Homo sapiens: one gene and its partners. The protein of the gene in region 3 purifies or fractionates together with the protein of the main gene of each other region. This does not show direct contact. Each region holds a gene or a part of one and is shown on either strand. Other genes may lie near its edges. The genes, in order: TSPAN3, ADIPOR1, TACR1, PRXL2A, TMEM164, ARVCF and HACD2.

The links.
Region 1: the proteins of TACR1 (region 3) and TSPAN3 purify together in Homo sapiens (affinity purification with mass spectrometry; 2 studies listed by BioGRID and IntAct, with this or other methods). This does not show direct contact.
Region 2: the proteins of TACR1 (region 3) and ADIPOR1 purify together in Homo sapiens (affinity purification with mass spectrometry; 2 studies listed by BioGRID and IntAct, with this or other methods). This does not show direct contact.
Region 4: the proteins of TACR1 (region 3) and PRXL2A purify together in Homo sapiens (affinity purification with mass spectrometry; 2 studies listed by BioGRID and IntAct, with this or other methods). This does not show direct contact.
Region 5: the proteins of TACR1 (region 3) and TMEM164 purify together in Homo sapiens (affinity purification with mass spectrometry; 2 studies listed by BioGRID and IntAct, with this or other methods). This does not show direct contact.
Region 6: the proteins of TACR1 (region 3) and ARVCF purify together in Homo sapiens (affinity purification with mass spectrometry; 2 studies listed by BioGRID and IntAct, with this or other methods). This does not show direct contact.
Region 7: the proteins of TACR1 (region 3) and HACD2 purify together in Homo sapiens (affinity purification with mass spectrometry; 2 studies listed by BioGRID and IntAct, with this or other methods). This does not show direct contact.

The regions. Positions count from the first base shown.
Region 1 is NC_000015.10:77,057,610-77,061,109, forward strand, and holds part of TSPAN3 (tetraspanin-3), read right to left. Parts: intron 1-3,500. UniProt on the Homo sapiens protein: Regulates the proliferation and migration of oligodendrocytes, a process essential for normal myelination and repair.
Region 2 is NC_000001.11:202,951,813-202,955,312, reverse strand, and holds part of ADIPOR1 (adiponectin receptor protein 1), read left to right. Parts: intron 1-1,005; exon of another isoform or gene 1,006-1,072; intron 1,073-3,500. UniProt on the Homo sapiens protein: Receptor for ADIPOQ, an essential hormone secreted by adipocytes that regulates glucose and lipid metabolism. Required for normal glucose and fat homeostasis and for maintaining a normal body weight.
Region 3 is NC_000002.12:75,189,521-75,193,020, reverse strand, and holds part of TACR1 (substance-P receptor), read left to right. Parts: intron 1-3,076; exon of another isoform or gene 3,077-3,500. UniProt on the Homo sapiens protein: This is a receptor for the tachykinin neuropeptide substance P. It is probably associated with G proteins that activate a phosphatidylinositol-calcium second messenger system.
Region 4 is NC_000010.11:80,418,551-80,422,050, forward strand, and holds part of PRXL2A (peroxiredoxin-like 2A isoform 1 precursor), read left to right. Parts: intron 1-1,449; exon of another isoform or gene 1,450-1,915; 5' UTR 1,916-1,917; coding exon 1,918-2,095; intron 2,096-3,500. UniProt on the Homo sapiens protein: Involved in redox regulation of the cell. Acts as an antioxidant. Inhibits TNFSF11-induced NFKB1 and JUN activation and osteoclast differentiation. May affect bone resorption and help to maintain bone mass.
Region 5 is NC_000023.11:110,167,114-110,170,613, forward strand, and holds part of TMEM164 (transmembrane protein 164), read left to right. Parts: intron 1-3,500.
Region 6 is NC_000022.11:19,971,824-19,975,323, forward strand, and holds part of ARVCF (splicing regulator ARVCF), read right to left. Parts: intron 2,417-3,500; coding exon 2,289-2,416; intron 1,971-2,288; coding exon 1,820-1,970; intron 1,495-1,819; coding exon 1,296-1,494; intron 1,214-1,295; coding exon 1,102-1,213; intron 1,005-1,101; coding exon 914-1,004; intron 589-913; coding exon 535-588; intron 149-534; coding exon 63-148; intron 1-62. UniProt on the Homo sapiens protein: Contributes to the regulation of alternative splicing of pre-mRNAs.
Region 7 is NC_000003.12:123,578,554-123,582,053, reverse strand, and holds part of HACD2 (very-long-chain (3R)-3-hydroxyacyl-CoA dehydratase 2), read left to right. Parts: intron 1-2,284; coding exon of another isoform or gene 2,285-2,353; intron 2,354-3,500. UniProt on the Homo sapiens protein: Catalyzes the third of the very long-chain fatty acids (VLCFA) elongation four-step cycle (condensation, reduction, dehydration, and reduction).

The DNA of each region.
Region 1 (3,500 bases), on a different chromosome or scaffold from region 3:
AAACATTGTTTTAAAACTCTCTTCCTCTGGCTTCCAAGAGGCCCCACTGCTGGTTTTCTTCCTACTTCCCCAGGTGCTCACTTTTTCATTCTCTTCACGGACTCTGAGATGTTAGTGATCTCCAGGATTCTGTCTTCGGCCTTATTCTTTAGTCATTCTCTGGGCTCTCCGTGGGCTACAGCAGCTATGGCTTCATTAGTCATTGTAGCTCACTACCTGAGCTATCATCTCAGAACTACACATTTCCATCTGCAAGTTCCAGAGACATGTCATCCTCAACCTGTCTCAAACCCTTTCTGCCTTCCTGCCCAGCCCATCTAATCTTCCCTTACATTCCTATCATAGCAAAAGGTACCAGACATCTAATTTTTCTGGTCAAACATCTGAGGATTAACTTTCCTTGCCCCACCTCTATAACCCATAAATCACAAAACTTCAACTTTACTTCCAAAACATTATTCGAATACCTCAACTCCTCTTCAACCCCACTGCAGTGCTTCTGTCTTAATTTGGGCCTTATCTTATCCCCCTAAATCTTACTTATTGACTCTCCCTGCATCTTAATACATTCTTTATACTACCAGGGTTATATTTATTAAAAATACAAACCAGATCAAGCCATAGCCTTACTTAAAATCAGGATGAGGCAAGTGAGTCCCCGATGAACCAAGCTATTCCTCCTTTTCAGCCCCAGATCTCATTACCCCTTGTGAACTATGAACAATATAGAACTGTTATACCCAAATGGACCACATATTCTCTCACTTCTTTGCCTCCGCTGTTCTCTCTAGAATGCTCTCTTCAAATGCCTGGGAACTCCTTGTCGCTCATTAAGATGAAGCTTAAATGTTACCTCTTCCTTTTGGAAGCCATTCTTGACCATTTCAGGCTGGATTAGCTGCCCTTGGTGGACACAAACATCTCCCAGTGCATGGTTCTAACAGAATATTTATCGAAACGGTTGCAATTATAGCTATACCTGTCTCAACACACCTTGAGAGCACGAATTGTACCCATCTGTCCTTCACCCTTGTATCATCTAGAACAGTACTTGGCAGACAGCAGGTATCAGTTAAAGTTTATTGAGTACACCTCATCTCACCCCTTTCCCTTGAAATCACCCTCCCAACTCTATCATAAGCTTTGGTTTGTATTTGCGTTGGTTTGTATTTGTATTTGGTTTGTATCTGGTTTCTCTTCAGTTCAATGCTTATAGCTTTTAGTTCACTATTCAATTATTTGGCAACTGAATCCAGCTTGCTGAATTCTGATGGCCATTACATCTGGAATATGTTAATATATCGTAAATATGTCATAAATATAAACACTGTACTTACAGCAAACTGCCTGTTCAAAGGTTCTCAGAGTTCACTGACATATTTGCTTTTGGGGCATGGTACTAGAGAATGAAGGTGAGCACAAAAGTGGGGGGGAGTGGAGAAGAGAAATAGTTTAATTTATCTTAATTTTATTTTATTTTATTTATTTTTTGAGACGGAGTCTCACTCAGTCGCCCAGGCTGGAGTGCAGTGGCGCAATCTCAGCTCACTGCAGGCTCCGTCTCCCAGGTTCACGCCATTCTCCTGCCTCAGCCTCCCGAGTAGCTGGGATTACAGGCGCCCGCCACTACACCTGGCTAATTTTTTGTATTTTTAGTGGAGACGGGGTTTCACCGTGTTAGCCAGGATGGTCTCGATGTCCTGACCTCGTGATCCGCCCGCCTCGGCCTCCCAAAGTGCTGGGATTACAGGCGTGAGCCATTGCGCCTGGCCAGACATAGCTTAATTTTAATTTGGGTGCATTTATTACAGAAGTATGTCAACTACTTAACACTCTTCCCAAATACCCCTTTTTATTGACTACTTGTGTGATATATATTCACACACATGTACACACACACATTTTGCTAAAGTAAATAGTATCAGTCCTCACGCTAAATTAGAAGCAATCTGAAGTGCAAATTAATCAAATTTTGTCATTTGTTTTTATTAGACGTTTCTCTATCCTTTAATGTTGTAGGTTTTTTTTACTCTAAAAGGCAGTATTTATTTCTTAAAAGGCTTGAGTTAAAATGAATTCCATTTCTGAGCTTTCGGTACACCTACTGAAACTTCACTAGCTTTAGCCTATGTAAATTCGAATGAAAATAAGAGAAAACTGGAGGCCATATGTACTTAACAATCAACCTGAAGCACAGTTCACTGAAGAACTACTTGCATTTTAGATATAAATTGATGAGTTTTCAATCTAAAGAGGTTCCTATGAGACTCACACTTAGTGCTGCTTGGAGGTGGGCCAAGGGAAATGTTTCCTCTGCTGCCACTGCCTCTCCCCCCTAAAAGAGGCACTCATCTGAAACTGAGACTACAAGAAAGCAGAAAAACCAGCAACAGAGACAACCAGATGCACAACAAATGCAATGGAGGGCTGTGGGGAGATGCCATTTGTAAAGCTGCCTCTTCTTTTCTGATAGACTCTACAACAGTTTTTTTTCCCAGGCTGCAGTCAACATCCAAGTCACACAACAAGATGAGAACATAACAAAGCTCTATTTGGCAACATATAGTTAAAGGAACTTACTAGTTGCACACACCAAAGAGAAAACTGCACGGATTGCTGATATGAAACTATACACATCAAATTGCTTATAAATAGACGATGTGTTTCCTAAATTGAAAACAGCTTCAAATTTTGCTTTTACTGAAATCTGTATATGGTGCTTATATCTTAAGCTGTATAATAAACAATTATGAAATGACACTGGTTACTTTGAAAATATAGAAGAGGTATCCCAGTAGCAGCTGAAGACCTAAAAACAGCCAAAAGTAATTGTTGTAATGATATCCAACCATCAATATGAAAAACACCCAAAAGAACATGGGAAACAGTATAGTAAATGGAAGAGAGGTTCTAAGAAATTCCTAACTAGTATGCATAGGGACTTTGTCATCCCTCAGATTTTTAATGCAGAAATTGTGGCTATCAGAAAAGCTATATAAAAGGTGAGCTTAAATTCTTCTTTTGAAGGGCCATGATGGGATTGAGATCTATCAAAGGATCTGAGCTTTGCCAATAAAGCAGCTGCAAAGGAGGGGGCTGGGGAGGAGGGAGGTGCAACAGAAAAGGAGATGAAATGTAGAACTTGGAAGCAGCTGAACTGCTTTAGTCACCACTGAGAAAATCTGAGCCTGTAAGGAGGATTTGTGCCAGGACAGTGTACTAAAAATATTCATCCTTTTTACAAAGAAGTGAAAGGAAATTTAGGCAAAAGGCTGAGGTCTGAAATTACAGAAAGAATAATTTTTAAAAAACCATTATTCTTTATCTTTTAATAAGCCTATACTCTAAATTAAGTCACAACATTTTAAAACTTTAGGAGAGCCAGTGCTTTTCCACTAAGCTGTCTAAAAAATAAAGCCATCTTGTTATAAAATTTTGCAAGTATATGAGTTCCAAAAGTATGATACTTCATTTTATGCTTTTACCCTTCCTCTACATAT
Region 2 (3,500 bases), on a different chromosome or scaffold from region 3:
CACATTGAGGCTACAGTGAGCTGAGATCACACCACTGCACTCCAGCCTGAATGACAGAGCAAGACCCTTTTAAAAAAAAAAAAAGACTTCTGTTGGGGAAGAGCTACAAAGGAAGTCAGACTGTTTTTCCACTTCAGAGTCTGGGACGCTTGGCATCGAGTAGGAGAGCTGAGGCCCTATATACTGTAGTTCGGTGATTTCAAACATGTGCCTTTGCTTTGATTCATATTTCTCCAACAAAGCTGTGAAATTATCCTGCCTAAGAGACAGTAGATAGGGGAAAAATGGCTGTATTCTTTATCTATACTGCTAGACTGGTCTTGCTTTAGGACAAGAATCAAGCTAGGTATGGATAGAGGCTACCCATAGACTCTCTAAAGGCCCAGGAACTAAACTCTTAGAAACTTTGTGTCTTTGCCTCCAGGAAAGGTGTGCCGTAGCCTGGAAAACTTGGGAATTGGTTCACAATATAAATGTCTCCAAAAACTATAAGTGAAATAACTCTCCAGCTAACTGGCTGGTGATTAAAAATCAATCTTTTCCCCATGTTTGGCACAGGATTATCTTATTTATAGGAGTACAAACAACCTCCCTGCTCCACAGCTTTACTCTCTAATATCCTAGGTTTACCCAGTTGGAAAGCTTAGTGGTAAAGGTTTATTAGCTTGAGTTGAAGAAATCTCATCAAAAATGCACTCAGTCGAGTTTGGCTCAAATATAATTTGCAGTATTGGGTGTGGCAAGCTTGAGGGGAAAGGCATTTCCTCTAAAATACGTAAGGACATAGAAAGCTGGCAGAAGGTTGGCTCACCTAGGATCGTTCTAACACCTTAGGGGTTTGTTCTGATTTTACACCATAGACTAAAACACACTTGTAATTCTCCATTGTTTGTGAGTGATCCACCCCATAGAAGTGGTATTTTCAGATCCTAGTATTATTTGCTCTTCTTTCTTGCCAGACGTCCGATCCCTATCTCTCCCTTTCCTGTCTCTGTGTTACTACAGTTTAGAAGACCAAACTGGACAATGGACTTTGCTCACTATGATGACATGATCTCCATTGACCTCCATTGTATGTACTTTAATGCATGATGATATATTTTGTATGATGAGTTGTAGCTGATGGCTGGTTTGTGAGTTAACTGGGGTCTCAGGTTTTGGTGACTCTGGGTCTAGAAGATGTAGAGAGGTGGTATAGGAGCTAGTGATAGAGGAGCTAGAGGGAATCGGAAGAACTAATAGTAAATGATTTGGACTGAAAAAGGAAAAGACTTTGATGATAGCCAGAAGACTTGAGGGCATAAAAACTTTTCAGATCAAATGATGAAATTAGTAAGAATGCCAATCTGGATTCTGCACATGATCTTTGGACCCTAATTGCCCAACTTAAATTTTCTCTATATTATTCTCATTGCCTCTAGTAAAATAGTTACATAGCACTCAAAGTTACTAAATTTAGTGTGTGACCATTCTAGTTGAGGGGTTCTCTCCCTCCACTGCCCTCCTGGAGCAATCAAATTGTATCACTTATTTTTGTGCATATCACAAACTACCTATGTTATCTGGCTCTTTGAAAACAATACTATAACTTGTTCAACTTGTATTTTGCACAGTGTCTTGTATTTTGCACAGTGTCTTAGAATGCCTTAGGGTGCTAGTCCTAAATACACTTGCTAAATATTCAATGAATGTGTTGACTTACTCTGGGGAAAGGGATAAGAGAAGCCACCACAAGCACAAGAAAATGCACATAAGCCCTTATCTAAGTGGCTAGAAGCTAAGTCATATGCTGGCAAGCTGGAATCTGCCCCATTCATTCATTCATTTTGAAATGGGTTCTAACTAAAATAAAGTATATTTATTATTTTATGATCCATGTATTGCATCTCAGAACCAGAATTTTGTTTTGTTTTGTTTTGTTTCTGCCCTGGTAGCCTGATCTAAGTTACTTCCAACAGTAACTTAGTAAGTAACAAGCTAAGTGTGCCCCTCTTTTCAGATTTATCTAAGATGCCCAAAAATATTTATGTTTTTTGCTTGTGATATAAAGTTGTTTTTTGGTTTTTTTTTTTTTGCTTGCGATATAAAGTATTTTTTAGTAAAGCTGCTGATTCAGTAGTACTTCACTTTGAGGAAATATGTTTTGAGGTCAGCCTATTGAGAAAGATTTCCTTGTGTCCCTCTCACACGGGTTGCCCATCCTCGAGGTTTTCATAGGCTTCCAGCTTCCTGTTCTCCTTAGCTCAATTGTTCACTATGACTGTGTGCTGGCATCTCGTCAGAGTCTTGCACATTTAAAGGAAGAGGAACTGTCTATGTGTTGACACCATATAAAGGTCTGCTGTATAGCAAGTTATTGTTTTTGTCTCTCTTGGACTAGATTGCCGGTTGCTTTCAACTGTGCTTGTGGGTTGAGCATAGCATGACTCATGACTGTTTAGAAGCTTGAGGATTGCCCTTACCTGATGTGTTAGTAAGTGTTCTCCAGAAAGCACCAATAGGATACATACATATGGATAGAGATGGGATTTATTCGGGGAATTGGCTCATGAGATTATGGAGGCTAAGTCCCACACTATGCCATCTCAAGCTAGACAATGAGGAAAGTCCATAACTGGTTCAGTTTAAGGCTGAAGGCCTGAGAACCCAAGGGGCTATTGGTGCACGTCCCGGAATCCCAAGGCAGGAGAACCTGGAGTTTCTGATGTCCAAGGGCAGGAAAAGAAGGGTGTCCCAGCTCCAGGAGGGAAGGAGGGGGAGAGACAGAGAGAGTTAGGGAGTCAGAGAAAGAGATTTATAATCCCTGAGAAGGAATTGTGATTACTCTTAGATAAAAAAGAACTGACACAAGATATCAAAGATATTTGTATATAGTGAATAGCCATGGATGATATAGTGTCTCCCTCAGGAGCAAAGTTATGTTTACTGCCCAATATAAAAGATTGGGGCTCCCTAAGCTTAAGTTTCCTCTCCCGGAATGCAACCCACTCCATGTGCAGTTGTTACCTGGCCCTCCCTGCATTGCAATGTGGTTATTTGGGTTTGGGTGGGGCTTGGGTAACCAATGCAAGAAAATGCTAATATTCTGGCTACTGCTATTGCTATAACTAATAAAGTCCTTTGTATGGGGGTAGAGGTGGGGAGAGAACTAATAATTTACAGCATAGTGGAAATCTTTGGAAACTTTCTCCCTCTTTCCCTCTTTTTTTATTTGCATTTCCCTGAGGCCTGTTTAAAGACTACTGTGAAAATCCAACCCAGGAAAACCTAAAGTGTCTGAGATTTTTCCTAGAAAATGGAATTCTGGGTTTTTCTGATTTTGTGTGTGCCTGTCTCTAGTTTCTGAAATACTCATTTGAGTAGGGCTTAGATTATGGGTTGTGGTGGTTGAAACAAGTTATTGTGGAGCTGGTTATTAGGTATGTGTGTGGCAAAGGGTAAATTGGGGCTGCCTCCTTGTCTTCACCTTCCTGCTTCCAGGTAAGTTCTTGCTTGCTTGC
Region 3 (3,500 bases):
AGGAGGAAACGACAAAGAGGAAGAGAGGCAGCAAGGCACAGGGAAATGAATGTGGAGTTTTGTGTTTTAATTAACTTCAAGAACACTGGATTGGGAATACTCATAATAATTTATTAATATCCATCATTTGGAAACTAGAAAGGAAGTTTTATGTTAATAAAATTGATAATGATATCTTTTATTTATGTTCCCTCCAGTCCATTGTCTCATTTAATCTTCATCATGCCAATGAGGATTCTGTTTCAACCTGGAAGAGCGATTAGAAACAATTTCTTTTAGCATTGTCCTCCCACTCTCCACCCCCTCACAGCTTGAAGACCCATGCAATTTGCTTTTATGTGCCTTAGACATCTGCCTACATGCTCCTGCACTTGGTGGCTTTTGGATGATACCTCATTTAAGGAAAACTGTCATTGGAGGCAGAAAAGCAATGTAAGAGTCCTATCACACAAGAGAAAATACTAGAGGCCTTTTTGACAATTTTCCACCCAAATAAAAGTTCAACCCCTCAACTTTCCAAACAGGGCCATTGTAAGAGTACCAAACTCTGCTTAAATATTCTACTCTATTTTTCCCATTTGTTAAATTCAATAAATTATTAAATCATCACAGAATTCTTCCTTTTCTTGAAATGAAATTTGCCTCTTTGGTTTTGGACTATTCCTACTTGTCTCAGGCCTCTTCCACGTAGCAGGCTTTCCAGTAAGTATAAGGATAAGGTATTAAGCTTCTATTTATCTTGAAGCATCCCCAGCTCTGGTTAACTGTCCCTGGTTCCTCCAACTTTACATCATCATCATTAGTCTCTACTGGTTATTTCCATTTGTTAATGGCCCTCTTAAAAGGAGATGACCAGAACAGAGTTACCTTACTACCATCACTCTGTCTAGCATCACCTAGACACCTAGGACTGGCATCCTCCCTAGTGACCTTGCTGTCCTCTTTGACTTAGCTCAGTGCTTATACTAAGATGCTGTCCTAGACCTGCAAGTCTAGCTGAGGGGTCCTTATATTTCCACAGCATTTATCCCGTGGTGTTGCAACTGTCTGTACCTTGTCTATCTCTCCCACACCTCCCTGCTTACTAGATTGCAAGCTCCATGAAAACAGGGATCCCTTATTTTGTTTCCTGTTCCCAGAACCTATCCAAGTGCCTGGCACAGAGTAGGTACTCATTAAAATGTGTGCGTCATGAGCAAACTGACCATGCTTCTCTTCTGCACACATCAGCCAAAATCTAAAAACCAGACCCGATGCCTCAAGCAGACCGTATAGCACACTTACGATGCTGTGCCTTGATGCAAAAGAAAAACTGGGCCAAATTTCTCCCTACCATAAAGGTTTGTTACAAAATAGAATGCTTTTGATTCAGAACCCCCGTTCTAGAATAACCATGGTTTCTAACTCACACTTACTTCTTCCACACTCCAGTTGACTGAGCCCCACAGGATACCTGACCCACACCTTGCCACCCTCAACAGGTATTGTGCCCCAGGAAAAGACTTCCGATTGGAGGAGGTGCTTATCATTACCATCTTACCTCCCGTCTACCCAAGCATACCAGAAACTCAGAGAGATGAAAATGATAAGCACCTCCTCCATCTTATGGACCCTTCTCTGGCCTAACTGCTGTCAACCCCCTGGATTTTTCTCTAACACCCCCCACTAGCAGCAGGTGCACTCTCTCCTTTACTTGTCCTTGCTGAGGTGAAACCAGGAGAAACCTACTCTCCACCCAGCCCTCCAACTCCTGCATTGTTCACACCATATAAAAATACGATAGACACAGGAAAATTCCAGCATGAAGTGGTGCATGTGAAGTCCCACGTATGTGAGACTGACTGGGGAACTGGCTTACATTGCACCAAACTTCTCTCTTGCCACCTTGAGAGACTTCAATTCCACCTCAGTGGAAGGGGAAATATGAAGCTCTCTGGATGAGGAGCACCAAAGATGAAGAGGTGCTTTATGATGACCTGGAGACATACGAATCAGCATGAGTTTTAATGCTACATATGAACTGCTCAAGGAAATTAATTTGTCTAAGCAGCCCTGGGCCTAATCCCCTGCCCTTCTCTTGTATAGTTCTTAATCTACTTTCCAATTCAGCTTTATCACTATGTTTAATATTTGGGATTCCCTGTTGAGTGCCTTTCATGTCTTTTGTATGAGCGCACCCTTTAATAAACTTACTCCTAGCCTTTGGCAGTAGAATGGTTAGGAAAGAGCCCAGGCGATGGGTTCCAGTGCTGGTTCTACCACTTAGTAGCTATGTGTACATATGCAAGGTATTTAACCTATCTGGGCCCCCAGTTTCCTCAACTGATAAAATGGTTATAATGAAACTTACCTTGTAGAAGGTAAGAAGAGAGGGAAAGATTTGAAAAGTCTGACATCCACTAAATACCACTAAAATACCAATTAATAGTAATTAATATTATGCCCTCTAGTAAACTCTGACACACAATCATATCCATTATACGTGTCCATTCTTGTCTCAGCCTCCTCCTGGATTCCTTCTACATCAAGTACAATAGCTACAGGGTAAAACATTTATGTTCTTCCCCCTAAAGATGGTAGTTTAAAACTGTCCTGACTGGGTCAGCAAATCTCTTGCTAAATGCTTTTCAACATTCTTTCCATCTTTGGAAATGTACACACAGTCTACCAGTAGTCCATCATTTGGATATTGTATATCATGGTCCAGAAAACCCAAATGTTTTCTTTTACACCATCCCCTAAGCATTCATTTCCAATCCTTTATGTCACAAAGTCACCACCCTTATATGGAGTGAGCATCATTGTTTAATATCTGAATGAGAATGTGTTCATTGCAAAAAGCTCTTATAGCTGCGTGAGTTTTAATTGATATTCAATTTGTTGAAGTTACAGTGTTTTTTAGCCTTTGAACATATTTTATAAATCATGGAAGTTTTCTTATATATCTAGTTTGTGTGCATTAAAGTATGAAACATTCATTTGCCTTTGTTCTTTGACTAAAGCTCAATAAATCTTTAAACATGAGATAGAATACTTCCAACTAAGTATTTGAATACCATTTTCAAACTTAATCAAATCAATCTTACATATTTTTATTAGTCACAATTTTTATAAGCTTAACAAATCAAATAATCTTTCAAAATGTAAACAGTATTTATAAACTTGATTAATTAAATTCCTCTAAGCATTTCAAACTATACTCACAAATTTGATACATCTGGCTTTGTTAAAATCTTCAAATCCCTAACAGGAAGACTTACAAATAGAAGAAACAAAATCTTTCTCAGGACTTACTTAGTTCTTGTAAGACTAATAAATCAAAACTTCTAAATTTAGCACACAAATTCTCTTAAAGCATTTCAACCTGCTGAGAATTAAACTGATAAATTCAGGTTCTCCTGAGCATCCAAACATTGACTACAAAATTAATTCATTAAATCCTCCTAGGTGTTACACTTAAAATTGCAAATCTTGTAAGTCAAATTCTCTAATATATCAGA
Region 4 (3,500 bases), on a different chromosome or scaffold from region 3:
CTCCCGGCCAAGTCCTGCAAGGGAGACTTGAGTCAGAGGTTCGATGGGCTGGGGTGAGGTGGGCCACACAATTACCACACCCACTCCCAGGCCTATTCCCGGTGATCTAAGCACACAGAAGCAGGCTGGTACTTAGGGAAGAAGGCACCAGTGTATGCCAGAGCTTAGGATGGCGTGAGGACCAAATGGAAAGATAGATATTGTAAGTGGTTGTTGGGAGAAGGAAGGCTGGAGGTGGGGGTACTTTGTGGGCTGCTTCCAGGAGCTCCCACCCACAGGCACAAGTCTTCCTAGCTGGCAGAAGAAGCCAGGAACAAGGCTGAATTCTGACAGAACCCGCCTGGAGCTCCATTTCAGTTGCAGAGACCTTTATCTTATGCAGCTGTCTTTTGCCCAGCCTCCTCTGCAGATGCCATAGGACCTCCTCTTTCTTTTCTTTTCTTTCTTTTTTTTTGAGACTGAGTCTTGCTCTATGACCAGACTGGAATGCAGTGGCACAATCTCAGCTCACTGCAACCTCCGCCTCCCGGGTTCAGGCGATTCTCCTCCCTCAGCCTCCCAAATAGCTGGGATTATAGGCATGCGCCACCATGCCCAGCTAATTTTTGTATTTTTAGTAGAGACAGGGTTTCACTGTGTTGGCCAGGATGGTCTCCATCTCTTGACCTCGTGATTCACCTGCCTCGGCCTCCCAAAGTGCTGGGATTACAGGCATGACCCACCGTGCCCTGCCAGGACTTCCTCTTTCTTTTTTTTTTTTTCTTTTTTTTTTTTGAGACGGAGTTTCACTCTTGTTGCCCAGGCTGAAGTGCAATGGCACGATCTCGGCTCACCGCAACCTCCGCCTCCCAGGTTCAAGCGATTCTCCTGCCTCAGCACCCCCGAGAAGCTGGGATTACAGGCACGCACCACCACGCCCGGCTAATTTTGTATTTTTAGTAGAGATGAGGTTTCTTCATGTTAGTCAGGCTGGTCTCGAACTCCCGACCTCAGGTGATCCGCCCACCTCGGCCTCCCAAAGTGCTGGGATTACAGGCATGAGCCACCGCGCCCTGCCAGGACCTCCTCTTTCTGATATAACACCTGCATTTGTTTGGCAGACATCTGTGTAGTTCTGTTCACAGGAGAAAAAAGTCAGATTACTAAACACCAGTGTTTAACAGTGGCCATCAGTAGGTGGTAGCTTCAGAGAGTATTTGCTTTCTTATCGACTATGGTTTCATGTATTCTCTGTTTTGTTTTTTACTATAAGCATATTTTGTTTTTATATAAGGGAGAAATAAAGCTCTTCTCAATTGGGAGAAATTACTGCCTGCCTATAATGAATGAGGCCCTGCTGGGCACTGGCTGGGGGCTTGATGAGTAGGATATGGTCCCTGTTTTTGGAGGGTCGTCAAACTAAAGAGGAAAGAAGATAGGGGAACAAAACAGTGCGGTTGGTGTTCTAAGTATCCTCTGATCACAGAAGAGAAAGCTGCCCCTACCCAGGGACATGATCCTGAGCCACCTGGATTGTGAGGGAGAATCAGGCATTGATGAGGAGGGGAATGAGGAAGTAGTCTGCCTACAGGGGACATAGCTCGGCACAGCTCCACAGAGCTAGGGGCTGCAACTTGGGGCATGAGAAGAGAGAGCAGCAAGAGAACCATTTGAGAAGGCTGTCCTTTCTCTGTCATCACTCCTGATGCCCTGGTGAGCTCCACGGTGCAGGAACCTCCATGTGTGTGCTGCATCCCCAAGTTCTGGTGGCAGCAGGTGCTTAGCAGCCCTTGTCCAGTCTCGCCTGTGACACTGCTGCTCCCTTCCCCTGTCCTGACCTCCTGGTTGGCTGTCCTGCCAGAGCCTTGCCTGGAAGATGAAATTCCAGCTACCCTGTGGGAGCAGTAACGCCTTCTTCCTTCTTCTCAATCTCCAGAAATGTCTTTCCTCCAGGACCCAAGTTTCTTCACCATGGGGATGTGGTCCATTGGTGCAGGAGCCCTGGGGGCTGCTGCCTTGGCATTGCTGCTTGCCAACACAGACGTGTTTCTGTCCAAGCCCCAGAAAGCGGCCCTGGAGTACCTGGAGGATATAGACCTGAAAACACTGGAGAAGGGTAAGTGGTGACCCTTCAGGTCTCAGTACTTTTCCAAGGAGCTGGGATACAGGCTTACTGCTTTCTTTCTAAACTCTCTCCTTTTTTTAATTGAAAAGATAATATAACAACATTAGGAAAAATTTAATAACAATTTTTAAACTAGGAATAATTCTGTTACCCTAACACAGTAATTTTGATTTTGGCATATTCCTTTCCATGTGTACATATTACGTAGTTGTGCTTGGCTTAGGTGCTGTTTTACATTTTAGCTTTTCTTATCAAAAGCATTTCTCATTCTCTGTTGTTGTCTCTGTAATTATAATGATAAATTGCTCCATAATATTTAGTAATAATTACAATCTTTTACTAAACCAGTGCTTCCAGAGTGTATTCTGAGGAATTCCAGGCTTGTGGGATCGTCAAACTAAAAGGAGTTCCTGAGTGAACAAGTATGGGAGACACCTTTTATCCAATTCCATGCTCCTGATGCTCAGCACAGACATATGCTTATTAGAATGAGGTGTCTGGATTGCTGCTGATTCAGGCATGGCCAGCCCCTCCCTGTGAAGAAGCTGTGGTGTCTGAGGAATCACTTCAAGGTCACCCGTTAGAGCAGACCTGCCTATCTCCCTCTTCTGGGGGACTGCTAGAATCCATTGTGGACAGCTTAGAGCCACACACCCAAATGTGTTAGCTCTGCCTCCTTGCTGTGTGCTCTCAGTGTTAGAGCTGTAGCTTGGTGGGATTTCAGTCATGCCAGTGGTGTGGCAAGAGAGTTGGAGTGGTGAAGGTCTCATTGATGGCGTGGTCACCATGTTAGCCCCCCAGGTGGAAGTCATCGTCATCTGTTTAGTAAGTAAGGAAGCTTGCGAAAGGAAGGCAGGAGATTGTGCAGGTTTATAGTAGGTCACCTTAGTAAGATACTAGGAGAGAGAGAGACCTGTTAAGCTTTGTTCAACCCAGGGTTTCCCAATCTTATTTGATTACAGACTCTTCTCCCCACCCTCTCACCCACCTGACCCCATTTTTTTTTTTTCCACATAACATCTACGGGAACATGGATCCCTCTGGGAAATACTAAAATAATTAAGGGCTCATATTTATTGAGCCCTCACCAACTCTATATTACCAGACATTGTGGTGAGCACTTTTATATTCATCTTTCAATATGCCCTGTGGCCCAAAGTGGAGCTACTAGATATTTGCATTTTACAAATGAGGAAGCTGAGGTTCAAAGAGCAAAAATAACTTGCCCAGAGTTACACAGCTAGATTCAGATTCAGTTGGACCTTAGAGCTGGGCTTGTTGAACTACAGTACTGTACTACCCCAAAGCATTTTATTCCTAGGCATCTTCTATCCTCTCCTTCGTTAATAATATTGCAGGTAACATATTTAGGTTAAAAATTTGAGACTTTTTCAGT
Region 5 (3,500 bases), on a different chromosome or scaffold from region 3:
CTTTTATAAGATTTTGGATGGTTGTGGTCGCCATGATAAAAAATAGCAGCAGCCATCTGCATGCCAGGATAGCTGTCGTATATACTTTTATCTCTCTTTTTCCACTCACCAGCCCTTAGAGGTAGATGTTACCCTCAGCCCACCAGCAGGAAAACAGGCTTAGAGGGGCAGCACAATTTGCCCAAGGTCACTCCTATGGGTAGTGGCAGAGCCATGATTCAAACCCAAGGCTACATGGCCCCAAGGCCTTTGTTTTTAAACTACTAAGCTGTATTTTCTGCCATTTGTGTACTGCCTGGTGTTTTGTCTTTTGTCCTTGCCATTACCAGCCATAGACAGATACATAGTTTGGCTGTCATTTGAATGGTAGTGGACTCTGTTGCACAATGTTGAGGTACCATAGTTTATGTAACTATCTCCCCACTTGGTTTGTTTCCAGTTTCTCAGTATTATAGATAGTGCAGGTGTAAATATCTTTGCGCAAATTAGGGTGGTTTGTTGGAGTTTTTAGGTATTTGATGGTGGTCCGCAAAGTAGTATTTTTGAGGCAAAGAGTTATAATTTTATGATTCTCCAGAAAGTCTATACCATTCATTCACCCAAGCAGTGATTACTTTTGGAGTGCCCACTGTGTACCAGGTGCTGGACGTGAAGAGGTAATTCAGAAACAGCCCCTCTCTCAGAGAACTAACAGTCTGGTATGGGATGGATGATGCAGCACAGAATGAATGCTACTAAAGTCGGGGTTTGGGCAAGGGGCAGTGAGAGCACTGAGAAACAGTGTCCCCTGGTAGTATCTCTGAGTGTTCCTTTCCCTCTGCAGCATGGGGCAAGACGGGAGGAGCATGATAACAGGGCTGGCTGCAGAGCTGCCTCCTGGCTGAGGACACCCCCCACCAACACCCACGGGCTTTCCTGCCACCGCCTGTTGGCTCAGTCACTGCTGCCCATCTGCCACTAGGGGGCGCCGAGCAGAGAGGATGGAGGGAGGGGGCACCCGGGACAACAGGACTGGGGGCTCCAGCAGTGGGAGGAGTGGCAGCCTAAGCCCTTGTCTGTCCTCCAGGCCTCCTCTTCCCCTGTATGCCCACCGCAGCCAGGGTGACAACACGGTGCCCAGTCCACACTCATTCAGCAGACAGGAATGTGTGCATGCCTTAAGGGCATAGCTCTGTGCATTTTCACGCACCAAGCACTGTGCTAGATGCTAGGAATGCAGAAGTGGCCTGACATGGTCCTTGACCCTGAGATGCACTTGGTCTAGAGGGTTGGACAGACAAGGGAAGAGACAATCCAACTTGTGTGCTGGAGGCCTTCACAAGTGGCAACAGGAGCGTTGAGCTCCCTAGTGAGTCCCCTGGCAGTGCGTGAGAGTTCATTTCTCCAGTGCTCCGCTCTTATGACTTTGGCTGTGACATTGCCCATCTTCTAGCCTGGAATTTCTCCATCTATAAAATGGAGGGAATGATATCTATGTCTGCAAGGGCCTTCTGACTCAGATGTGCCATGAGCCTAAAGCAAGCCTGAGCTTCTTCCACAGAAGAGCCCCCAGCCCTGGTCCCCACTTTAGTCACTGAAGAAAGTCTCCTTTCTCTTCTCGCCCACATGCTCTCCTTACATGGTTTTCCTTGGCATTCTGCCTCTGGCCTTTTCCTTCTCTCTTTCTACGTATGTTCCCATGACTTCAGTTACCACTGTGTGCTGATGACACCTACATCTCCATGCTCGCCCCCATCCTCTCCACTGAGTTTGTGACTCATATAACAATGAAAATAATCAGCATTTGCTAAATCCCAGATACAATACTGTAATTACGGTATATTATCTCATCTCATCTCTCCAACAACATTGTGAATTAGGCAGTGCCACCCCATTTTATAGGTGAGTAGAACCGAGTTCAAGAGATGCTGAGACTTTCCCAAGGCCCCAAAGTTGATAAGTGATGGGGCCAGGATTTGCAAACCTCTACCTGTTGAGCTCCACTGCCCATGCTCTTATCCATCACACTATATGTCCTAGAGTACAGGCAGCCGCCAAAGACCCATTTCCACTTGGATATTCCACATACACCTCAATTTCATGTCTAAACTTGGCCTCATCATTTCCCTTCTGTCCCAATCTGCCTTTTCCTCTCTTCTCCATGGCAATAAATGGCACCATCAACCCAGTGATACCCCAGCCAGAACACTGGGAGTTTTCCAAGATCCTTCCTCTCCCTTACCAACCCCCATCTCCCCAACAATCTTCTCCAATCTTCTTCCACATCATGGTGATTTTCCCCCCACTCTCCTCCAGCCTCACTGCTGTTGCCTTCCAAGGCCATTCATCCTGTTCTCTTTTTGGGCTCCTGTAGCAATCTTCTTACCAGCCTCCCTGCCTCGACTCTGTCTGCTTGAGTCCATCCCCTGCACACCAGCCAGGGTGATCCTTTGCAGACACACGTGATCACCTCACCTTACTGCTTCAAAACTTCTGCTTTCTGTGACTCTACAGCAGAGCTCAAAGCTGGCCACCCATGGGCTGAAATCCATTCAGAAGACATGTTTTGCTTGGTCCAAAATGTTCTTAAAACATTTTGAATTAGTCGCCAACATTGGAAAATCAGGAAATTTCACATAAAAGTTCATATATATTGGCTTCTCTTGCAAAAGTGAAAAGAACTGGTAACTCTGGGTGCACATCCCTTCAGGGCAATGATTGGATGGAGCTGAGTGGTGGTTGCCCTCTTTAGAAGGGGTGTGGGCTTTTCAGTTTGACAGTCTCCAGCATCCCCTAGTGTCTCTTAGGCCCTGGTCGCACCCCTGCTTCCAATTATCTGCCTGAGAGTTGGGGCATTTGAGTTCATGACCCTGGTGCATGGGATGAAGCCCAAAGCCCTCAGCATGGCTTCTAGTGTCCTATGTGTCGCAGCCTGGAGCAGACCAGCCCTGCGAACCTCTGAGGCTAGTACCTGCTAACTGCCCCGTTACACTCTCCCCTGTGGCCCCATGGAACCCTTATCCATAGTTCTCTGAATTGCCCCACTCTTGTCTGTCTCCATGCAAGCTTGTGCTTTGGAATTCCTAGGCCCCTCCTTAAGTCCTATTTGTCCTTCTGGGCTTTGCACCAGTACTTGCTGTACCAAGAAGCATTCCTTGTGCCCCTGGCTGAGTTTTGTTTTCCCATAACAGGTGGCGCAGACCTCAGTCATCCCACCAGCTACCCTGTGTTGTAGTTGTTGACTGTGAGTCTGCAGTTGCAGGGAACCTGCCTTCTTTATCTTCCTGTCCTCAAAGCTTTGCACAGGACTTGGAATACACAAGGTGCCTCATAACTGTTGAATGAATGGATGAATCAGTGAAAGACTGATTTGGGAAAATAATAGTCTAGGATATGATGTCAACCCTAATTGCTTGGGGTGGGGGTTCCAGGTCCCTTTCATTCTTCAGCATTCCCCACTCTGAGTTCCCACTCAGAGTGATACCCACAACATCCTATAAACCATGCCCCCATTCTCCAAG
Region 6 (3,500 bases), on a different chromosome or scaffold from region 3:
TCCAGCAACCCCTAGACACGGGGCCTCACCGGGGACCTGCCCACAGCCACATGACCACTTACTTTCAAGGGTTCCTTCTCAGAGGCCTCTCCTGCAGAGCTGGCGCCCCGTGGCCTCCGCTCCCTCCGGTCCACCGTGGAGTATCCGTCTGTAGATGGGGTAAGGTGGGGCATGAGGGGCGCTCTGAGGGAGGCCCTGTAGGAGCAGATCTCCCTCTCAGCCCAGACACAGGGGACTCGTGGGACAGGGGCTTTGGGAGACAGCCCCCACCCACCCTGTCCTGGAGATCCAGGCTGGTGCCAGCTCTCACCAACACCCTGCCAACTCTCCAGACTCCCCTCCACTTGTGGGTCAGAGCCCCTGGCTGAGCACTAATCCCTCTCTAGCTGCCCTGTACCTCACCCTCTAAGCACCCCTAAACCAAATATCTCTCCTCCACCCAGCACCATCTACACCCCATAAAACCAGCAGGCCCACTTCAGGCCTTGGTCCCCTCCCGGCACAGAAAACCAACCACACTGCATCTGCACTCACCTGGGCCCAGCGCATCCATGGGGATCACATCCCGGCTGCCAGTTTTCTCGCCCTCTGCAAGGCAGGAGGAGGAGACGGGCTGCATGTGGCAGCCAGGGGGGATCGGGGCAGAGAAGCCCACACAGGGCTGGCCCAGGTAGCCCTAGAGGCTCTCTGTCACTAAGGTGCCCAACCTCTGCCAGCTGGCAGCCTCACCCCAGCTTGACAACAGCGCGGATGCTGTGGGAAGGGAGTAGCCAAGAGGCAGAGGGCAGGGAAAGTGGCCTATGGAAGCCGTCTCAGTGGGAGGCCTGACTCCTCCTTCACCTTCACCCAAGGGTCAGGCAACTGGGGCAGCTGGGGTCGCCACCCTCTAGGCTCCCTAAGCTCCACCACTCACCAAGGCTCTTGTCCACCAGTGGCAGCGTGCTGTCATCGAAGCCCCCAGGACTCAGTGCTCCCTTAGGCCCCTTGGCAGTAGCAGCAGCTGACTGAGACATAAAACACAGACACAGGGTGGGTGAAGCACATGGAGTGGGAATAAGGCAAAGTGAGCAGGGAATGGAAGGAAGGCCAGGGAAGCCGCACCTGGAAGCGCGCCTTGGTCCAACCATCTTTCTGCAAGGTACCACGCAGCTCCTTGTAGCTCCACACTGTCTGCAGCACGTGTGACGCCGCCTTCGCTTCGCGTACCGATTGGCTGTGGGGCCGGGGGCGGGGTCAGTGGTGGCCCCTCCCCCACCTCCGCGGCTCCCCAAGCCACCGACCCCGCCCCTCCACACCTGGAGGCCACGAGAGCCACCAACGCTGGCACCCCGCGTGCCTGCAGGAGCGAGCGCGCGTTATCCAGGCTGTCGGACACGATTTCGTGGATGGTGTTGAGCACCGCCACCACGGTGTCTTCCTCCAGGCAGGCCCCCGGTCGCGGCGGAGCCTGTGCATTGCGCACATTCCGCACAAGCTCAGCCATGGCGTAGCTCCCTGAGGGGCAGGACTAGGTGTCAGAACACACCTCTGCCCCACCTCTCCAGGAAGGAGCAGGGATCCCGCGAGGGCGAGGGGCACTGCCAGGAGAGCCCCTGGAGACCGCCTGTGTGCAGGCGGTCACAGGAGCCCCTGTGAGCAGGGCGCTGAGCTTCAGAGACAGGGCCGGGGGGACTGGAGCTACCTCCAGTTGGGACAGCGCCCAAGCGAGAGGGCCGGGGCCTGGACTCCCAAACCACTCATCCTCCAAGCCCCTCCGATGGGACCCCAAAGCTGCAGGCACAGTTCGGTGCCCAGGCGTGGGCTTTGCAGGCGTCCTCACCGATGAGGTCTTTGTTGCGCCGGTCCAGCGAGAGGTTGCGCAGAGCGATGGCGACGGCGCGCACCACCTTGTCGGTCTCAGACTGCAGCAGTTCCACAAGCACCGGCAGCCCGCGCTCTTTGCGCACTGTGGCGCGGATGTACGTGGCCCACTGCGGAGGCGGGGAGAGGGTTGCTCAGACATACATGCCAGGCACTCTCCCACCTCCAGACGCTGACCGCTCTCTCCAGCTGGACCTTCCTGCTCCCGTGCCCGACAAAGCCCTACCCCAAAAGCTCAACGGCACCTCCACCGAGGTTTTCCCACCGTCCAGGGTGCACGCATTGCCCGCAGCCCATACACCTCTTGGATCCTGGGGTGGTGGTGTGGCCCCTCCTTTCCCCGCCAGCCGAGGCAGGAGCTGCACCAGTGAGGTGCCTGGGATTCCCTCTCTCAGGACTTGCCCACCCTGCCCGACCTGGTCCCTCACCATCCAGTTGCCGGCACTGAGGTTCTGCAGAGCGCCGGCGGCAGCCTCCAGGGTGTTGAAGTTCCGGCTCTCCGTGAGGAGGGAGAGGTAGAGACGTACCACCTCGGGCTGGTACAGCAGCTCAAAGCCTAGGTGCAGGGCAACCGCCACCCACGGTCACCCAGAATCTGCTCTCATCCATCATACCCCTCCCGCTTCCCGCTTCAGAGCTCCCAGGGCGTGGGTGAGCTGGGGCCAGGGATGGGTGTGGATGAGTCACGTAATATTTACTATCAACATATAGTCACCCAAGGGGAAAAGCGTTCCCATTTCACAGAGGAACAAACTGAGGCTCAAATCAGTTGGACCTGCCTGGCAGCAGGAGCATCCAGGAGGCCTGGGGTGGGGAGGGAGGTGTCAACCAGGAACGCTCTCCTAGCAACAAGACCCGCATTTCCCGGTAGGTCCCTGAAGCTATGCATCCTGGCCACGCCCCTGGTAATAGGGCCCACCCTCCCTGGCAACAAGACCAGCATTGGCCAGTAACTGAGAGTTGTATAACCAAGGCCACACCCCTAGCAAGAGGACCTGCTTTCACCAGTAACTGAAGCTGTGCAGAGAGCTACGCCCCCTAGCAACAGGGCCCACCCTCCCCCACTGACAATAGAGCCCACCCTCTGTAAGTCAACTGATGCAGTGCAACCAGGGCAGCTGCCCTAGCAACAGGAGGCACTCTTCCTGGCAACCACTCCAAGTTCCCGGGCAACTGAGGCGCCGTCCTGCTGCTCTGCCCAGTGCTCCAGAAATGAGGGGTCAAAACAGCCTTCCAAGCTTGCCTGTCTCCAAACTGGGGCTTCAGCCTGGCTTGGGTACTACCTCGATCTCCCCTGTACCCACCCAGTGACATTTCATCACACCCTCGCCAGTCCTCATGCCCCATGCTCCCTCTACTCCTGCCCTGCTGGGCTTTCTGCTCCAACACACTCCAAGCACACTCCCCGCTGGGGTATCTGCATCAGCCCTGCTCTGCCTGTAATACTCCCCCACAGCCCTCCTGCGGCTGGAGCCCTCCACCCTGGTGACATGCAGGCTCTTCCAACTGGCTAGGCCCCACCAGGACAGACCTCTCTCTCAAGCCAGATCCCAGCATACAGCCCAATAGGCACTGCCCTGTCCCTGCAGGTGTTCGTCTGGCCCAGCCTCTGAACCTGGATGTGAGCATGCCCGCCTGGC
Region 7 (3,500 bases), on a different chromosome or scaffold from region 3:
GTTCTAGATTGGGTAGAATCTCATTTAACTTAGGTTACCTTGAATGTATTTTATATTCGACTTTTTTGGGAAATCAACTGAAGCAAGCTTATATTAGGATTTTTAAAAATTCTAGGGACATCCTGGGGAAGCACTGGCAAAATCAGATGCTTTCAGGGTTTATGTAATAGAAATAGTGAAGTTGGTGGGTGTAGGATATTGGAAGTGATAGATAGAAGACATAATAGAGAGCCTGTCTAGAGGCGTCCAAATTTTAAAAATTTAACAAAAATGTATTGATTTCCCTGCATTAAGGGCAATGTATATCCAGCCCTCTCTCTTGGGGTAAGTATAGATTAGGATTTTGGAATTGCAAGGGACAAAAACCCAATTCAAACTATTTTAAGCAAAAAAGGAATTTTCTGGCCTCTGTAGTTGATACAGATACAGGATTAATTTACAAAGAAACTAGCTCAGGAATGAGAACCAAGGAGCTGACACTGCCAGATTCTCTTGCTTTCTCTCATTTCTGCTTGTCTGTTTCTCTTTGAATGTTGGTCTTGGGCTCTCCACATGGTGGGAAACAGGGAGGGTGTTTATTTTTCGCAGCATCTGTGTCACACAGTTCCCAGAGAGGATTCTGGTTGGCCCTACTTAGACTATGCCAGTGATGTGAGGTGCTTGATTAGCCAATCTTAGGACACATGCCCATTCTTCTGTCCAAGGGACTATAGACTTTGCTTATGGAAAAGAGGGATGGGGATAGCTTTGGGCACACAAAATCAATAGCCGCCATAGTTCGTATATTTCATTATGGTGAAAAACCTTCAGATTGCAGGGAAGATCTGGTTCATTTTGCTTAGCCTCCAGGCAAGACCATCATAACATTTATACTTTACTGGCAACTTTTAAAACCTGAACTATGGAATGATACTTAAGAAAAAATCATTTATCTCGCTGGGCACGGTGGCTCACGCCTGTAATCCCAGCACTCTGGGAGGCCGAGGCGGGTGGATCACGAGGTCAGGAGATTGAGACCGTCCTGGCTAACACAGTGAAACCCCGTCTCTACTAAAAATACAAAAATTAGCCGGGTGTGGTGGCACGGGCGTGTGGTCCCAGCTACTGGGAGGCAAGGTTGCAGTGAGCTGAGATCACGCCACTGTACTCCAGCCTGGGCAACAGAACGAGACTCTGTCTCAAAAAAAAAAAAAAAAAAAATTCTTTATCTCATGAAATGAAGTGTGATACCTCTACCTTTCATTCTCAATTTTTTTTTTTTTCTTGAGACAGGGTCTTGTTCTGTCGCCCAGGCTGGAGTGCAGTGGTGCCATCATGGCCGTGGCTCACTGCAGCCTTGAACTCCTGGGACCAAGCAGTCCTCCCACCTCAGCTTGCAGAGTAGCTGGGCCCACAGGCTTGCACCACCATACATGGATAATTTTTAAAACTTCATAGAGACAGGGTCTCCCTGTGTTGCCCAGGCTGGTCTCAAACTCCTTGGCTCAAGCAATCTTCCCATCTCAGCCTCCCAAAGCACTGAGATTACAGGCGTGAACCACTGCACCCAGCCCACTCTCACTTTATTTATTTATTTTTTTGAGAGAGGGTCACTCTGTCACCCAGGCTGAAGTGCAGTGGTGTGATCACTGCTCACTGCAGCCTTGACTTCCCAGGCCCCAGCCATCCTCCCACCTCATCCTCCCAAGTAGCTGGGACCACAGGCGTGCACTACCGTGCCTGGCTCATTTTTATATTTTTGGTAGAGGTGAGGTTTGGCTGTGTTTCCCAGGCTGGATTCACTCTCACGTTCTAGATCAGAAAGTTATCCATTTTGCTTTTGTTTTTTTCTCTTAGAAGGCAGAGGAATTTCTTTTTTTCTTTCTTTCTTTTTTCTTTTTTTTTTTTGACACAGGGCCTTACTCTGTTGCCCAGGCAGGAGTGCAGTGGTGGGATCTCGGCTCACTGCAACACAGAGGAATTTCAATAGTGTCCAAACTTAGGCATTTTAAGTAGGTGGTATGATGAAATGAGCTTCCAGCTGGAAGCCTGAGTACCTTTTTATTTTAAGTATAATAGTTTTCCCAACTGACTCTATAGATTTGGGCAAGTCTTTTCTCTCGTATCCACCTCCTTTTCATTTGTAAATAATTAGGTTAAAGTAGATTTCTAAAGTCCCTTACTACCCTAAATTTGAGTGTGAGGAAATTTTAACAAATCCTAATGTGAACCATTTTTTAAACTTAGAGGCTTGAACTTTTTTTGGAAGCGGACACTAGTAAATAAGTAGTACTTTCTCTTTCAGAACCTTGGCCAGTACAGTTCCCACAAGCTACAGAGAAGCAAATTTGGAGTCAAGACCATCAGACTTCCAGTACTTGATATAGTAGGGGGTTGTCCCCATTTGGAATACTTCAATAATTTAAAGGGGTTTCTATCTCTTTAAGACATCATAATATTAGAGCTGAGCACAGTGGCTCATGCTTATAGTCCCAGCAATCCCAGAGCTTTGGGAGGCCAAGGCAGGAGGATCACTTGAGGGCAAGAGTTCGAGACCAGCTTGAGCAACATAGCAAGACCTCATCTCTACAAAAAAAAAATTTTTTTTTTTTTAGCTGGGCTGGGTGGTGGGTACCTGTAGTCCCAGCTACTTGGGAGGCTGAAATGGGAGGCTTGAGCTTGAACCCAGGAGTTTGAGGCTGCAGCGAACTATGATTGCATCACTGCAATCCAGCCTGGATGACAGAGTGAGACCTTGTCTCAAAAAAAAAAAAACTTGGTAATGTTAGAAGTATAATTTTTAAAATTTAAGTATATCTTATGGAAGGTAGGGACATTAAACAGTGTCATACTTTAAAATCCACTCAGGAACCAAGTCTTAGACTTTGAAGGATTAGCCTGTTTATCCTTATAGAATTTTTAATAGGGATTTAGGAAAATATCTTGGATTTTTGGTTTTATCTCTGTTATCCCCACTAAGAACCAATTAAGTGACAAATCCTGGATTTGATTTTGGGAAAATGTCTGTGCATAAGGAAGTGAAGACTCCCAGGAACATGCAGGCAATTAACGTTGCAAAGGTCAGTGATGGAAGTAATCCCTTGGACTGGGCGATAGAGCAGGCTTGCTAAAACCACAATTTCTGTGGTTGAGGAGTTTTTCATTGCCTACCCCATCTACACTGTGTAATAATTAGATGTGTGTGGTATTGTTTAATTACACATAAGTTATCCTGATGGGAATTATTAGTGTTGACATATATCCTGTTTACAGGAGGAGAAAATGAATCCAGGGAAGGCAGCTACTCATTTATATCTCTTTATGCTAAATGTTATTCTTTATTAGGTTCTGTGGGAGTTTACTTAAAAAGGAAATCGAAATTACTTGTTCTCCAATTTCACATCTTCTTAAGAAAATAATAACACTTTGCTTTTTAAAAGACATAAAAACATTTACCAAGCAAGTACAAAGGAGCATGTAGTAGCAAGGTACAAAAGGAAGCCTGGCTGAGTACCATGGCT